Homo sapiens: one gene and its partner. The gene in region 2 interacts genetically with the main gene of each other region. Each region holds a gene or a part of one and is shown on either strand. Other genes may lie near its edges.

Region 1 (7,630 bases), on a different chromosome or scaffold from region 2:
CACTTCAGCCACCCAAAGTGCTGGGATGACAGGTGTGGGCCACCATACCGGGCCCCTGCCCCCCGATTTGTGTCCTGTTCACCCTTCTGGGAACATTCATTGACTGACATTTCTCAAAACTAAATGTTTGTTGAATGAATGAATGAACGAAGAGGCAGTCAAAGTGGCGGGCACTGTCTGGGTCTCCCCTCTCCCCCACAGTCAGTGCTAGGCCAGGTCCCTTTCCTCTCACCAGTGAGGCCAGGATGGAACCCCCGATCCAGGGGCTGAACTTGCGCTCCATGGTGCTGTTGCTGGCAATGAGTTTCAGTCGCATGCTCTGGGGGTAAAAAGGGGCTGGGGGAAGCAGACACCTAGGTTCTGGGAAGGGACAGGGCTTGGGGGAGAGGGGAAGACTTGGGAAGCCACAGGGGCAGGGGTTCTGCTCTGGTGGCCAGAACAGAAGGAAGGACATGGGAAGGATGAAGGGACTCAGTCCTGGACAGCTGAGCCAGGACGGGTGTCCAGGGCTCTGGGTCAGGGGTGGGCTCCTACCGGTGGGGTCTTCTGGGAAAGCTCTCGATTGAGCCTGTCAGTGAAGCCCTGCAGCAGTGTGTTCCCGCCGGTGACAATGACACTCCCGTACAGGCCCTGAGAGCAGGGAGAAGGAGTGAGCTGCGGGGGCAGCCCCCCAACCCCGTCTCCCCACTTCCCCTGGGCCCCTTTGCCGAGCCTCAGCTCCGGCCTGGCCTCACCGGGCGAATATCAATGTCACACATGCCGATGCTGGTGGTCACCACGTGGCCCACACCCAACATGGTGTTCCCCGACAGGCCCTGCAGAGAGAGGTGACTGGGGCTGTGGGCTCTCTCCCCCTTCCCCCCAGACCCCTGCAATCCTTCCCAGCCTCCCCCACGCCCCAGGATCCAGGGACTGCAGCCAGCACCCACCCCAGTCCTCGCCACACAGCCAAACCTTGACGTTCGAGGGATCAAACAGGCCCTCAGGGATGCGGAGTCGCTCGGCGCCGTAGTCTGTATTGTAGCCATTGGGCATCTCGTAGTGCACTGTGGGCATTTGTGCAGCCACCCTACCCAGAAGGGAGCAGGACTCTGCCTGGGGTGCTCAAGAAGGATCAGTGCGTGGGCAGCACCAGAGCCCCCCAGCCCACCCCAAGAGTGCCGGTTCTGCCCTCTCTCCCACCCCAAAGCCCTGAGCCACACTCACTGTTCATCGTAGGGGGAGTCTGAGACCTGCAGCACGGAGGCCTGGAAGTCCTGGATCACCTCCTGAAATCCCAGCGGAGGTGGTGAGGGCCTGCCTTCCCCGTGAGCAGCACCCCCTGCCCCGCTCCCCCTCCCTGCTCCCCCTCCCATGCGGGGCCTCTGTCCCGCCCCCGATTCATGGCAGGGGAGGGGGGTTTCAGGTGGCCCTCTCCAGAGGCTCACATTACACATGTAGTTATGCCAGGACTTGGAGACCTGGGGTAGCTTCTCCTTCTTCTTCCAGTTTGGGGGGGCACCCTCCCGGACAGGCTCCTGTGGGGGCACAGTGTAGGAACACCCTTTCCTAGCCCACCTGACCCCCACCCCCACCTTCCTGGCACTGTTCCCAGCTCTGCAGCTACCTGGCGCTGCAGGCTCTGCTGTGCTGCCTGCAAGAGGGGTTTCTCACCCTTCCCTGATGGAGAGGAGAGAGAATGGGGCATGCCTCTCTCTCCATGTGTGCCTTTCATGCGGTGGGTGCAGCTGATCTGGAGAACACCAGGAATACAGCAGTGACAGAACCTCAAGGGAATGGCCTCCTAGGGGGTCATGATCCATGTGAGGGCACGGAATGGAGCTAAGCACACAGTGTCACTTCATACTCACAGCACCCTGGCTACTGCCTACTGCCGTTCCACTTTACATAAGACAAACCTGAGGCCCAGGGAGCTTTGATATCATGCTGTTGGTCACACAGCTCTTTTTTTTTTTTTTTTTCAGATGGAGTCTCACTCGGTCGCCCAGGCTGGAGTGCAGTGGCGCGATCTCGGCTCACTGCAACCTCTGCCTCCGGGGTTCAGGTGATTCTCCAGTCTCAGCCTCCCAAGTAGCTGGGACTACAGGCATGCACCACCATGCTTGGCTAGTTCTTGCAGTTTTAGTAGAGACGTGGCTTCACCATGTTGCCCAGGCTGGTCTCGAAGTGAGCTCAAAGCGATCTGCCTGCCTCAGCCTCCCGAAGTGCTGGGATTACAGGTGTGAGCCACCATGCCTGACCGGTCCTGCAGCTCTTGCACGGCAGAGGCAGAACTTGAACCTGGGTCTATATTGGACCCTAGAACCCACCACACTGGCCCTCACACATCCTGCTGTCTGCCAGCTGGTTTCATGACCTCAGCATATCCCTCAGCCTGTCTGGATTTCGGATGCCTCGATTATAAAAGGAGGAACTGGAGCCAGGACCCACTGGGGAGCCTGCTGCTCTCTGCTCTGATATCTCATGTGTCAGAGGGTTGACGGCCATGGGGCGAGTGGCCAGGACTCTAGTGGCAGCTCCATGTCCCCAGAGGCCCCACCTTGGCTGCGATCATGTAAGGTGGGATGATGTCAATGGCCATCTCCTGGAACAGCTCCCGGCACTGCATGGAGATGAAGTCCCCTGCCAGAGGGGACTTGACGATGCCTAGAAGGAAGGCACTGTCAGGACCTGGTCCTCCTGGAGCACCCCCACCCCCTGCCGAAGCCCCACCTTGCTGCAGAACGTAGCCGTCATGTACTGGAATGGCCGTGGTGTGGGTGGCTCCACTGTCCAGCACGAGGCCAGTGGACCGCCCGTTTGCAAAGCTGGCATCGGATGGGTAAGTCAAAGAGACAGCAGCAGCAAGTGAGGGGCCTGGGCCCAGATCTTGTCTGGTCACTCTCTGCTCTACCGGGGTCCAGCCCATCCCCAGTCTGCAAATCTCTCCCCCTGGTGATGACTCATCTCCTGGAGAAAGGCTCTGAGACCCCAGTTACTTCTTTTTTTTTTTTTTTGAGATGGAGTCTTGCTGTCTCCCAGGCTGGAGTGCAGTGGCGCAATCTCAGCTCACTGCAAGCTCCGCCTCCCGGGTTCATGCCATTCTCCTGCCTCAGCCTCCCGAGTAGCTGGGACTACAGGTGCCTGCCACCACGCCCGGCCAATTTTTCGTATTTTTAGTAGAGATGGGATTTCACCGTGTTAGCCAGGATGGTCTCGATCTCCTGACCTCGTGATCTGCCCGCCTCGGCCTCCCAAAGTGCCGGGATTACAGGCATGAGCCACCACACCCGGCGACCCCAGTTACTTCTTTAGTTATTTTTTTTTTTTTGAAACTGAGTTTCGTTTTGTCGCCCAGGCTGGAATGCAATAGCTCACTGCAACCTCTGCCTCCTGGGTTCAAGAGATTCTCCTGCCTCAGCCTCCCAAGTAGCTGGGACTACAGGTGCCCACCACTATGCCTGGCTAATTTTTCCATTTTTAGTAGACACGGGCTTTTGCCATGTTGGCCGGACTGGTCTCTAACTCCTGACCTCAAGTGATCTGCCCGCCTTGGCCTCCCAAAATGCTGGGATTACAGGCGTGAGCCACCGCGCCTGGCCAGCCCCTTTATTTTTGGTTGTGTCCTACAGATTCCCTGAAATTAGGGTCGCTATCACCCCAGTGCATAGCACAGGGTTCAATGCAAGGCAGATCCTAAAAACAGTCAGTGTTGAAGGAGTTCTTGGGAAGGGACTGCCGCAGTGTTCTACACGTCTCCCTCCTCTGTCCAGTTCCAGCCCCTACTCTCTCCCGGGCCCAGCTCACTGTCTGCTCAGCCTGATCCGGGGAACCGAAAGGGGCCGCTGATCTGGCCACCCCAGAGTCGGAGGTGCTCAGTCCACTGGGCCTTCTGCACTAGTGGGGCAGAGGGAGGTGTCTGCCCATTGGGACACTGATCTTCAGAGAACCAGGCCTGACCCTCCAGCTCATCACAGCTGAGCTCAGCACAGGCCCCACCCCAGCCCTCCACCCAGTCAGAGCAGCTCAGTCCAGAGGATACGCGGTGAGCACAGCCGTCTTGCATAAGAAGAAGGCAGGAATGTTGTACTGCTCGAACATCAGCTCTGTCAGCTTCTCCCGCTTGGCCCGTGTGTTCCACTGTGGAGAAAGTGCAGAGGGGGAGGATTCAGGAAGGGAGAGGCACAGACCCACATCCACGCACACGCAACCCACTCACTCACACATACACTCACGGTCACACACACACATCCAAACACTTGCACACACATACACAACCTAAACACTCACACATACACTCACGGTCATACACACATGCATTCACTTGCACACACACACACATACACTCAAACACACACACATACACTCACATTCACAGACACACATAAACACACACATGCATTCACACTATACATACACTCACGGTCACACATGCAAACACACTCACAAACACACGGTCAAACACATATATACTCACATTCACACACAAACTCACACACACACATACACATATATTCACACTCACAGTCACACACACATGCATTTAAAACATTTGCACAGGCCAGACAGGGTGGCTTACGCCTATAATCCCAGCACTTTGGGAGGCCGAGGCAGGAGGATTGCTTGAACCCAGGAGTTCGAAACTAGCCTGGACAACATAGTGAGATGCTGTCTCATTAAAAAAAAAATTTAAAGTAAGGAGCTTGTGGGAATTAAAACTACATGAACAGAAATGAAAAACTCAATAGAAGGATTGGAACATAAAGTGGAGGGAATATCTTGGAAACCAAAGGAAAAAGGTAAAGAGATGGAAAATATAAGAGAAAAGGGAATTAAATTAGGGGACCAATTCAGGGGGCAACAAAATCCAATAACAGAAAATCCCAAGAGAGAAAATGGAGAGAAATAAATAATTAAATAAATAATTCTTTTTCACTGAATTGAAAGACATATGTTTTCAGAATGAAGAGACATACTAAGTGCCTAGAGCCATGAATGAAAATACACCACACTGAGGATAAAGTAAAAATTCTATAAACTTTCAGAAAGAAAAACATTACATCAGAGGATCAGAAATCAGATGGTTTCATCCTTCTAAATGGCAACGATATATGCTGGAAGAAGGACAATGGAAAAGTGCCTTCAAGATTCTGAAGAATAATGATTTCTAACCTGGCATGGGATACCTAGCTAAGCTATCAACTCAAGGTGAGACACACAAAAGTCTCAAAAAATATACTTCCCATGACCTTATTTTAAATTTTTTTTTTAGATGCTGGGCGCGGTGGCTCATGCCTGTAATCCCAGCGCTTTGGGAGGCCAAGGCGGGCAGATCACCTGAGGTCAGGAGTTTGAGACCAGCCTGGCCAACATGGTGAAACCCCGTCTCTACTAAAAATACAAAAATTAGCCAGGTGTGATGGGAGGTGCCTGTAATCCCAGCTACTTGGGATGCTGAGGCAGGAGAATCCTTGAACCCGGGAAGCGGAGGTTGCAGTGAGCCAAGATCACGCCATTGCACTCCAGCCTGGGGGACAAGAGTGACACTTCATCTCAAAAAAAAAAAAAAGTTTTTTTTTAGATTATTATTTAATTAATTATTTTTTTAAATGGAGTCTCACTCTGTCGCCCAGGCTGGAGTTCAGTGGCATGATCTAGGCTGACTGCAATCTCTGCCTCCTGGGTACAAGCAATTCTCTTGCCTCAGCCTTCCGAGTAGCTGGTACTACAAGCATGCACCACCATGGCCAGCTAATTTTTATATTTTTGGTAGAGATAAGGTATCAGTATATTGCCCAGGCTGGTCTCAAACTCCTGGACTCAAGGCCTCCCAAAGTGCTGGGATTACAGGAGTGAGCCACTGTCTCTGGCCTCTCATGACCTTTCTAAGGCAGTTACTGAAGGACCTGCTCCATGAAAACAAAGGAATAAGTCAAGAAAAGGAGTCAAGTACAGGAAACAGGACTTCTAACCAGGACAGAGGCAAAAGGATTCTACAAGATGATGGTGAAGGAAGATGCCAGCATGACAGGTCTGTCCCCTGGCAGAGGGCTACTAGTGCAAACTGGACCAGGTCAGTGGGCTCCTGAAGAAATTTCTTCAAGAAATGAAATTGATGAGAGGCCAGGTGTGGTGGCTCACGCCTGTAATCCCAGCACTTTGGGAGGCCGAGGCCGGCGGATCGCGAGGTCAGGAGATGGAGACCATCCTGGCTAACACGGTGAAACCCCGCCTCTACTAAAAATACAAAAAATTAGCCGGGCGTGGTGGTGGGTGCCTATAGTCCCAGCTACTTGGGAGGCCGAGGCAGGAGAATGGTGTGAGTCCCAGCTACTTGGGAGGCTGAGGCAGGAGAAATGGAGCTTTCAGTGAGCCGAGATCGCACCACTGCACTCCAGCCTGGGCAACAGAGTGAGACTCCATCTCAAAAAAAAAAAAAAAAATACAAAAAATTAGTCGGATGTGGTGGTGGGCACCTGTAGTCCCAGCTACTCGGGAGGCTGAGGCAGGAGAACCCAGGAGGTGGAGCTTGCAGTGAGCCGAGATCGCGCCATGGCACTCCAGCCTGGGCAACAGAGCAAGACTATGTCTCAAAAAAAAAAAAAAAAAGAAATTGATAAAATATCTAATGGAATTGACGTCTTGACAAAAGATACAATTGATGAATGATTTAGGGTTCACACTGTTAAGTAGATAGAAAACCAGACCAAATATAATCAAACACAGGGCTGGGATGGTGGCTTACGCCTGTAATCCCAGCACTTTGGGAGGCCAAGGTCGGTGGATCACGAGGTCAAGAGATCGAGACCATCCCGGCCAACATGGTGAAACCCCGTCTCTACTAAAAATACAAAAATTAGCTGGGCGTGGTGGCACGCACCTGTAGTCCCAGCTACTCAGGAGGCTGAGGCAGGAGAATCACTTGAACCCGGGAGGCGGAGCTTGCAGTGAGCTGAGATCGCACCACTGCACTCCAGCCTGGTGACAGAGCAAAACTCCGTCTCAAAAAAAAAAAAAAAAAAAAAAAAAAAAAAAAAAAAAAAAAAATTGAACACATTTTTTTTCCAGTTCTAGGAAAACAAAAAGTTGCACAAGAAAGGAAAGGTGATCATGGTGTATTGCCTGTCTCAGGCCTGATTAGCATACATAGTAATAGGAGTGTAAATATTGGGCTGAGCACAGTGACTCATGCCTGTAATCCCAGCACTTTGTTAGCTGAAGTAGAAGGATCGCTTAAGCACAGGAGTTTGAAGCCAGCCTGGGCAATATGATGAGACCCCATCTCTGCAAAAGATTCTCTTAAAATTATTTCTAATTTAAAAAGAATGTAAATACTGAATACTGATTTCTTTTAAAGTCTAAAATACAACTGGGCTGGGTGTGGTGGATCTCGCCTGTAATCCCAGCCTTTTGGGAGGCCGAGGCGGGCAGATTGCTTGAGCCCAGGAATTCAAGACCAGCCTGGACAACATGATGAAACCCTGTCTCTAAAAAAAATTTAAAAATCAGCTGGGCATGGTGGCTTATGCCTGTAGTTCCAGCTACTCTGGAGACTGAAATGAGAGGATCACTTGAGCCCAGGAGACCAAGGCTGAAGAATTGTGCCACTGCAATCCAACCTGGGTGACAAACTGAGCAGACCCCCTGTTTT
Region 2 (7,630 bases):
TGTGCTGTGGTGTTGTGTGTGACATCTGTGCAGGCCCTGTGTGCTGTGACGTCCGTGCAGGCCAGTGTGAGACCCATGGGTGTGTTGTGATATCTGTGTGAGGCTGTGTGCTGTGACATCTGTGTTATCTGTGTGTGCCCGTGAGGTCCACGTCTGTGCTGTGATGTCCATGTGTGATTTCTGTGTGCGCCCGTGAGGTCATGTATACTGTGATGTCTGTGAGGCCCACATGTGTGCTGTGGCATCTATGACATCCGTGCAGGCCAGTATGTGTACTGTGACATCGGTGTGTGATGTCTGTGTGTGCCATGATGTCTGTGTGAGGCCCACATGTGTGCTCTGATTTCTGTGTGAGGCTGTGTACTGTGACATCCGTGTGTTATCTATGTGCCCATGAAGCCCATGTGAGTGCTGTGACGTCCGTGTGTGTTATCTGCATGTGCCCATGAGACCCACGTGCTGTGATGTCTGTGTGAGGCTGTGTGTGCTGTGGCATCCGTGTACGTTATCTGTGTGTGCCTGTGTGAGACCCACGTGTGCTGTGACGTCCGTGCACGTAGGGCACACGCCTGGGACTCCCGGGCCCTGGTGCCTGTGCGCACTCAGTCCTGTCCTGGGTTGGGACCGACACCTGCAGCAGCCCCACCCCGCCCCGGGCCTCTCCTCCTGGGCACAGCTGAAGAGCGGCAGCGCCAGACACAGGGAGGGACACAGGCGTGGAGCTGCGGCCGACGCACCAAGTCCGATGATGCCCAAGGTCTCCCCGCGGATCCTGGCAGCGCCGGACGCCACCTCGCGGATCTGCTCGACGCTCTGGACTCGTGTGCCCTCCCGCAGCGCCTGGTGCAGCCAGGTGGCCCGCCGGTACAGGTTCAGGATGTGGCACAGCGTCGAGTCGGCCGTCTCCTCCACAGACGCCGCGGGCACGTTGCAGACGGCAATGCCTGTGGGGACAAGGACACGGCGGTCACCCCCGGGCCGGGCCCAGCCTCCGGGAGGACACCGGGGCCGCCGTGACTGGAGCGGGTTTGAAGCTTCCCAAGGAAGAAGCCAAAGGCCGTGTCCCCAAGGCCACCCCGGGAGGCCACGAGATGAACACGTTGCTCACAGGTCGGGCGCAACAGAGCAACTCCAGGAGCCCCACCTCCACTTTAGGTTCACGTGGCAGCACACACACGGCAACTGCTCGGTGTGTGGTAGGGCTGGGGTGTGAGACGCTGCCCTGACCCCTCCCGACTCAGCGCTGGCAGCCCAGGAAGAGACAAGCACGTGTCTCCCCGCGTCACCTCGCCACCCCGATTCCTCTCGGGGGTACCCTGCTGGGAGGCTGTGGCCAGGTCAGAATCTGGGTGCCGGCCCCGCCTGCACACCCCTACGTGGACATCCGCACATGTCCTCAGGCCTCCCCCAGGCCCAGCCGGGCCCCGAAGCCCCTTCCGCCCTCCATGCCCCACCCCTGCAGTCGGTAACACTGAAGCTGGAGCCATTCCTGGAAAGCAAGTCCATCCCATTTCTCCCGAGTGGCCAGGCACGCCCATGTGTGACCCCTACTCCCCGCTCCCGGCCTTGTCCCCAGAGACAGGCCCTTCCCCAGCCAGTGCCCCTCCCTGAGCCTATTTACCCTCATCCCTGGCTTGTCCCTGGCCAGGGCCGCCCCTGCACGGCACTTCCCACCCCATCCGGATGATTGCATTCCTGTGTCCGACTGGCCATCCGTCTCCCTGGGGAGGAGGAGGGGGCAGGAGGCCAGGACAGGGCTGCATTCATAGGCCCGGAAGCTGGACAGGACCGTGTGGTTCCGCAAGGGGTCCCGGGGGCCGGGAGAGGGCCTGATGTGGGGCGGCGCAGGCAGGGGCTGCATAGCCCCTAGACACAACTCACTTGGACGTAAAAATGTTAAACAAGGGAGACTGAGGGAGAGCCAAGCCAGGCGCCACACGAGATTGGAACAAAGACCTCCTGAGGGTGGGCCAGATCCCAGGGGTGCCCCAGACCATCCCTGGCTGAAGAACAGAGCCCAGGCCTGGGAAACTCCACGGGTAACAGAGATGGTAAACAGCAGGGACCCCTCAAAAAGCACCAGGCATGCACCCGACACCACACACCCAGGCCTGCACCCGACACCGCAGCCGGCCCTTCCTGGGACGCCACCACAGAGACAAAGGCGGGAGGAGGCTGGCACACAGGTTTGGCCCATGGGCGCCGGCGGAAGCAGCTGAAGCCAGTGCAGGAGACCCCCAGATGGAGGCATGGCTTCCGACACCACCTGCGTCCCCCGCAGGAACACAGACGGTTCCAACTTTGCAATGCCATAAACTGTATCCTAGGAAAAGGGAAGCAAAACCGTGAGGCGCTGGCCAACTGTGGGCAAGGGCAGGGTACAACCTCGCCTGTTACCAGCATCGAGAGGAGGAGAAAAAACAGACCGAGCCTGGCAGAAAACAGAAAGTGCGCTCCAAGCAGGACGGCCAAGCACCGCCCCAAGTTTGTTCTAATGAGTGTCTGTACATGGATGCAGACACATGTGCATGTTCCATGTGCGTGTAGGTGCACGGGTGCAGACGTGCGTGTTCCATGAGTGTTCCATATGCTGAGTGCACAAGCAGAGGTGCATGTGTTCTGTGTGATGAGCATGTGATCCATGTGCTGAGTGCGTGTGCACAGGTGCAGATGAGTGTGCGTGATCCGTGTGCTGAGTGCATGTGCACGGGTGCAGATGAGTGTGTGTGTTCCATGTGCTGAGTGCACATGCACGGCTGCAGATGTGCGTGTTCTGTGTGTGTTCTGTGTGCTGAGTGTGCGTGATCCGTGTGCTGAGTGCGTGTGCACGGGTGCAGATGAGTGTGCAGGATCCGTGTGCTGAGTGCATGTGCACGGGTGCAGATGAGTGTGCGTGTTCCATGTGCTGAGTGCACATGCATGGCTGCAGATGTGCGTGTTCTGTGTGCTGAGTGTGCGTGATCCGTGTGCTGAGTGCATGTGCACGGGTGCAGATGAGTGTGCAAGATCCGTGTGCTAACTGCATGTGCATGGGTGCAGATGAGTGTGCGTGTTCCATGTGCTGAGTGCACATGCACGGATGCAGATGTGCGTGTTCCGTGTGTGTTCTGTGTGCTGAGTGTGCGTGATCCATGTGCTGAGTGCACAGGTGCAGACGTGTGTGTTCTGTGTGCTGAGTGCACACGTACTGGGTTGCAACACGCTGCTGTTCCCGCTGTGTCTCGGGACAGAGACCTATGAGCCCTATTACAGCCATACACTGACGGCCCTGCCCTCACCCCCAGGGTCCCAGTACCCAAGCAAGGGGCACCAGCCAGACATGCATGCAGACCTGTGTGAAGCCACAGCTGGATTTCCTGCTGCCCAAAAGAGAGGAAGTGCCCTGAGATGAGGCTCTGTGAGGAACTGAATGGCTGCAACCTCATGCCGGCCCCAGACGGGACCACGAACCACCGCCAGCCACACCAGGCAATGTGCAACGGGGTCCTCAGTGTGGCAGTGAAGCCTCCATGGACGAAGCAAGACGGGACGGAGCTTGCATGAATGGGCACAGGAGAGAACTCGGAGCCGGCCTACCTAAATCCCCGGCCGACTTGATGTCGATGTTGTCAAAACCACTGCCAATCCGGACGATGATGCGGAGGGCTTTGAACTTCTCCAGGTCCTCCCTGGTGAGAGTGATGGTGTGGTACATCAGGGCCCCCACAGCCTCGTTCAGGACCTGCAGCGAGAAAGCACACAGGCTCAGCCCGGAACCTGAAGACCCTCGGGCTTGGCCTTCGGGGGTGGGGCTGCCCCGGCTGGGAAATTAGCCTGTGGCCCTCAGGCTTGTTCCCCAAGCACCAGCCCGGACACTGGGAGAGGCTACATGAAGGCTTCCCCGCCACGCGCGGCCCCTCAACCTCTGCCCAGGCGTCCTGAGTCCCAGCAATTCCCACCGCAGCCTCCTCAGCCGCATGTAGGCTGCAGGCCGGCACTGGTCAGAGTTGCCCGCTCCCCACTGTGGTGGCTGAGATGTCTCCTTTTGAGCGTGCGCCCCACCGAGACTCTGCTCAGCCTTGTGGAAGAAACGGGGTCCCGCCTGGCGAGGACACAGGAGGGGGGGTGCGGCCACACCCAGGAAGGACACTGAGCAGGTGCAGCTGGGTGGGGTGGCCAGGGAACCTGAGACCTGCAGGCCCGGGGATGCAGGTAGAAAGTGGTAAGTCCCCGCGGCACACAAGCACGTCGGCGGAGGCAGGCAGACGCCACCCAGCCGTAAGGATACATCCACAGGAGCATGCACTGCCCCCGTGTCGCCCAAGAACCTGCCCAGAAATGCTGCCCCTGGCTGGCGAGGCTTGGGTCTGAGCAGTGTTCACAACAGTCACGTTTTTAATTTCAGTGTCCATGACAACTCTTAGACCGGAACAGCTCCCGCGAACAAAGACCTGGCACACAGCACAGCAGCCCAACCCTGGCGCCTCCACTCAGCCAGTACATGGCATCGCTGTGGTCACGGCCAACCCCACCCTGCCAAGGGCTCCCAGTTACCCCCAGCCCAGGGAGGGCAGGGGCAGTGTGGGGTGCAGAGGCACACAGGTGGAGGAAGTGCCCTAGGCCGAAGAACCAGGTGCAGCACTGGGCACAGGGTGGGGATGTGTGTGCACCACCTGCGCATCCACCCACACCCAAACACATCCACCCGCACACGTCCATCCCACACTCCCGTGCATGACAACGCCCACCCACGGGTGCAGAGATGCTCTGTGCGAACAGCCGTGGCTGAGGACACCAGGACATGCAGGCCTCGTCCACATGGGCATGTCCGAGTCCCCGGAGACACCAGTGAGCCTCCCATGTGGACATGACTCCCACCCACCACCTGTCCAGCGGGGCCCCAGGTACTCCTGACGGATCAATGGCGCAGGCTCAGCACAGAGGTTGCCGGGGCCTAGGTGGCGTCTTTCCCTCCCTTCCTGCCGAGCATGGAGCCTGTGGATCCCGGGCGGCAGTGCCTGGGTTGCTGGACCGCAGGGCGTCCTGTGGGAGCTGACCCTGCCTGGGTCCTGGGCAGAGCAGCTGGTGTTGGGCAGGCATACGTGGGCAGGGTGAGGGCAGCCCCCAGGAAGACGCTCACCACCCAGCTGCAACCCCTTCTCCTACAGTGCCCGGACCTCCAGCTTAGCCAGAACAGATGATTCCCTTTGAGGCTGGCACAGCCTCCCTTCCCTCCTGCCCACCGCAGGGGACCTAGAGGAGAGGACCATGGAGGACCACACAGACCAGGGCCACAGCAGAGGCTGGGCAGCAGGGGAGGGGAGCCCTGGGCTAGCCTGGGCATTCTCCAGGAAGAAGGGAAGGTTGGAGCACCTCGGCTGCAGGAGGCAGGGAGGCATCTACCCGGACCACAGAGGAACAGGTGTGTGTAACACTCATCAGTTCATGGACAGGGCTGATGGCTGCCCCGGGCCTCCTGGGAGGGCTTTGAGGCTGCATGCATGCAGACCCCTGGTGCACCAGACGCAGTGTGGACGGGGTGACCCCTGGTGCACCAGATGCAGTGTGGACGGGGTGAACCCTGGTGTACCACACTTGACCAGACGTAGTGTGGACGGGGTGAGGCCACAAGGACAGCATGGGCAGGCAGAGGCCAGCAGTGGGCGACTGGTGCACAGCTGTGGTGGAGGCGAGCGGTGCGGCCAGGAAGACCCCTGCGCTGCGTGGACTGGAGATGGGCGCCCACACACCAAGGAGGTGCTTCGGGCAGCCTGGCAAAGCAGCCGCAGCTAAGAGAGAGTCACCTGCAGATGAAGCTTCGTCGGCACCCACTGTGGGCAGGAGGGGCTGCGCATGCGAGCGGTGGGCAGAGGCGCAGTGGGAGATGGGCCCTGGGGTCAGGGACAGGCCTGGTGCCAGACGTGAGCCCGGGGGGCTGGCCTGGGCAGCTGGATGTGCAGGGGCCACTTCCACAGTGTGTGTGCAGAGGCTCGGCATGGACAGGCTGGACAGACCCACACCACACAGGCTTGTGTGTACGCAGGCAACAGCCTGCTTTCACCCGGAGCACTGGCCACGGGCCTCGAAAAGTCGATTCTGAACCGCGGCACGTCACCTCCCGCACATTCGGAGGAGACAGCGATCAGATTCACGTGAATATGACGAATATTCATCCGCGCAGCCTTAAGGTTGCTTCCTGCATCGGCTCTTCCGTGATGAAAATCTATCTCATCTAGGTAAGCTCGGAGAAGCCGAAGCGTGCGCCGGCCAAGGGCCCTCCTTTGGGCTCCGGGCGCGCCCACCCAGCTGAGCTGTGAAGCGCAAGCTGCCTCCCCGACGAGGCTTTCATCACTTGCCTGTGCACGATTCTTAATACACTTTTTTCAGGTCCTTGCCCTTTTCCCTACTGAATACAGGTTTAACAACATAGTATTAGGTGAAAGCATTCTCACTACAGGAATCTGAACATGGCTGGGGCACCCCATGCCCCGACCTCCACCACGTACCAGGTTGGCCTGTGCTCAGCTGCAGGGCCACAGCTGCTAGCATGTGCGCTTTACCACGTGGCGGCCACGTCATCCACAGGTCCACAGGCCAGGGTGCCACAGCGGCTCAGCCTCAGGGTCTACCTTCCTTTCCCCCTCGTGGCTGCCACGTGGCTGCTCCACCCCGCCTGTTGCATTGGTCTCCCACGGAGAAAGTCTGCAGGAGGTGGGTGCAGCCAGGTGTGTCCCTTTAGATCGGGGCCCAGCAGCCTCCCAGAAACCACCTCAAGCCAACACCCACTGATGTGTCCCCTCCACCGCCAGGGGCTCAGCCCCACTCTGCTCAGTGCCCTCAACTCCAGTGCTCAGAGCAGGCTGGGGAAAGCTGGGTGCCCAGGAAGCTCGGCTGCCACCGGGCTGGAAACAGACCCCAGGACGCTCCTGGTGGCAGCTGGCTCTTGGGGGTCAGGAAGGGGCCCGCCAAGCCCACCTCCTGCCATGCAGTTCTGCCACCTGCTTCTGTGCTCAGGACTCGACGTCGCACTTACCTTTCCAGACCTCGTGCACAGGGGTGGCTTACTCTGTGAAACTGCTGCTCACATCAGGTCACCATCAGGGCAGATGTTTCTCTACGACACGCAGCCACATGCAGGCCCAGGGTGGGGCTGGGCTGAAGACCGCAGGTTTCAGATTTCCAGAGAAACTGCCAAAGCACCATCGAGACCGGCACGGCCGTTTCTATCCCACATGAAGGGCCAGGCCCAGGCTCCCTCAGCACGGCTGGTGCAGGGCTCAGCGCAGGCCAGGCCAGGGGTTACCGGCGGTGCCTGCTGCACCTGTGAGAACCCAGGAGGCGCACCCCGGTTCTCATACACCGCTCTGTCTGTACCAAACGCCACCGCCCTCATCCATTTTCTGTCGGGATTTTTCTGTTTCTACTGATTGGGAGGAGTCTTTGAATATATAAACTTTTTCATTTACTTATTTTACAGACAGGACCTCGCTGGACTGCAGTGGTGTAATCATGACTCGCTGCAGCCTTGACCTCCTAGGCTGAAGCGATCCTCTGGCCTTGGCCTCTGGATACGCTGGGATGACAGGCACAGCCCCTGCACCAGCTCTGAGTGTTATCAGACATTCACCCTTAGGCTGGCACACAAATTGAA

What was found. A genetic interaction does not mean that the proteins touch.
Region 1: of CTBP1 (region 2) and ACTL6B, changing one enhances a phenotype caused by changing the other (phenotypic enhancement), as found in Homo sapiens cells (one study listed by BioGRID).

What each region holds. Positions count from the first base shown.
Region 1 is NC_000007.14:100,646,017-100,653,646, forward strand, and holds part of ACTL6B (actin-like protein 6B), read right to left. Parts: intron 4,120-7,630; coding exon 4,022-4,119; intron 2,808-4,021; coding exon 2,713-2,807; intron 2,647-2,712; coding exon 2,540-2,646; intron 1,518-2,539; coding exon 1,428-1,517; intron 1,269-1,427; coding exon 1,207-1,268; intron 1,070-1,206; coding exon 955-1,069; intron 816-954; coding exon 735-815; intron 631-734; coding exon 535-630; intron 337-534; exon of another isoform or gene 320-336; coding exon 233-319; intron 1-232. UniProt on the Homo sapiens protein: Involved in transcriptional activation and repression of select genes by chromatin remodeling (alteration of DNA-nucleosome topology).
Region 2 is NC_000004.12:1,224,623-1,232,252, forward strand, and holds part of CTBP1 (C-terminal-binding protein 1), read right to left. Parts: exon of another isoform or gene 6,486-7,630; intron 3,722-6,485; coding exon 3,577-3,721; intron 945-3,576; coding exon 738-944; intron 1-737. UniProt on the Homo sapiens protein: Corepressor targeting diverse transcription regulators such as GLIS2 or BCL6. Has dehydrogenase activity. Involved in controlling the equilibrium between tubular and stacked structures in the Golgi complex.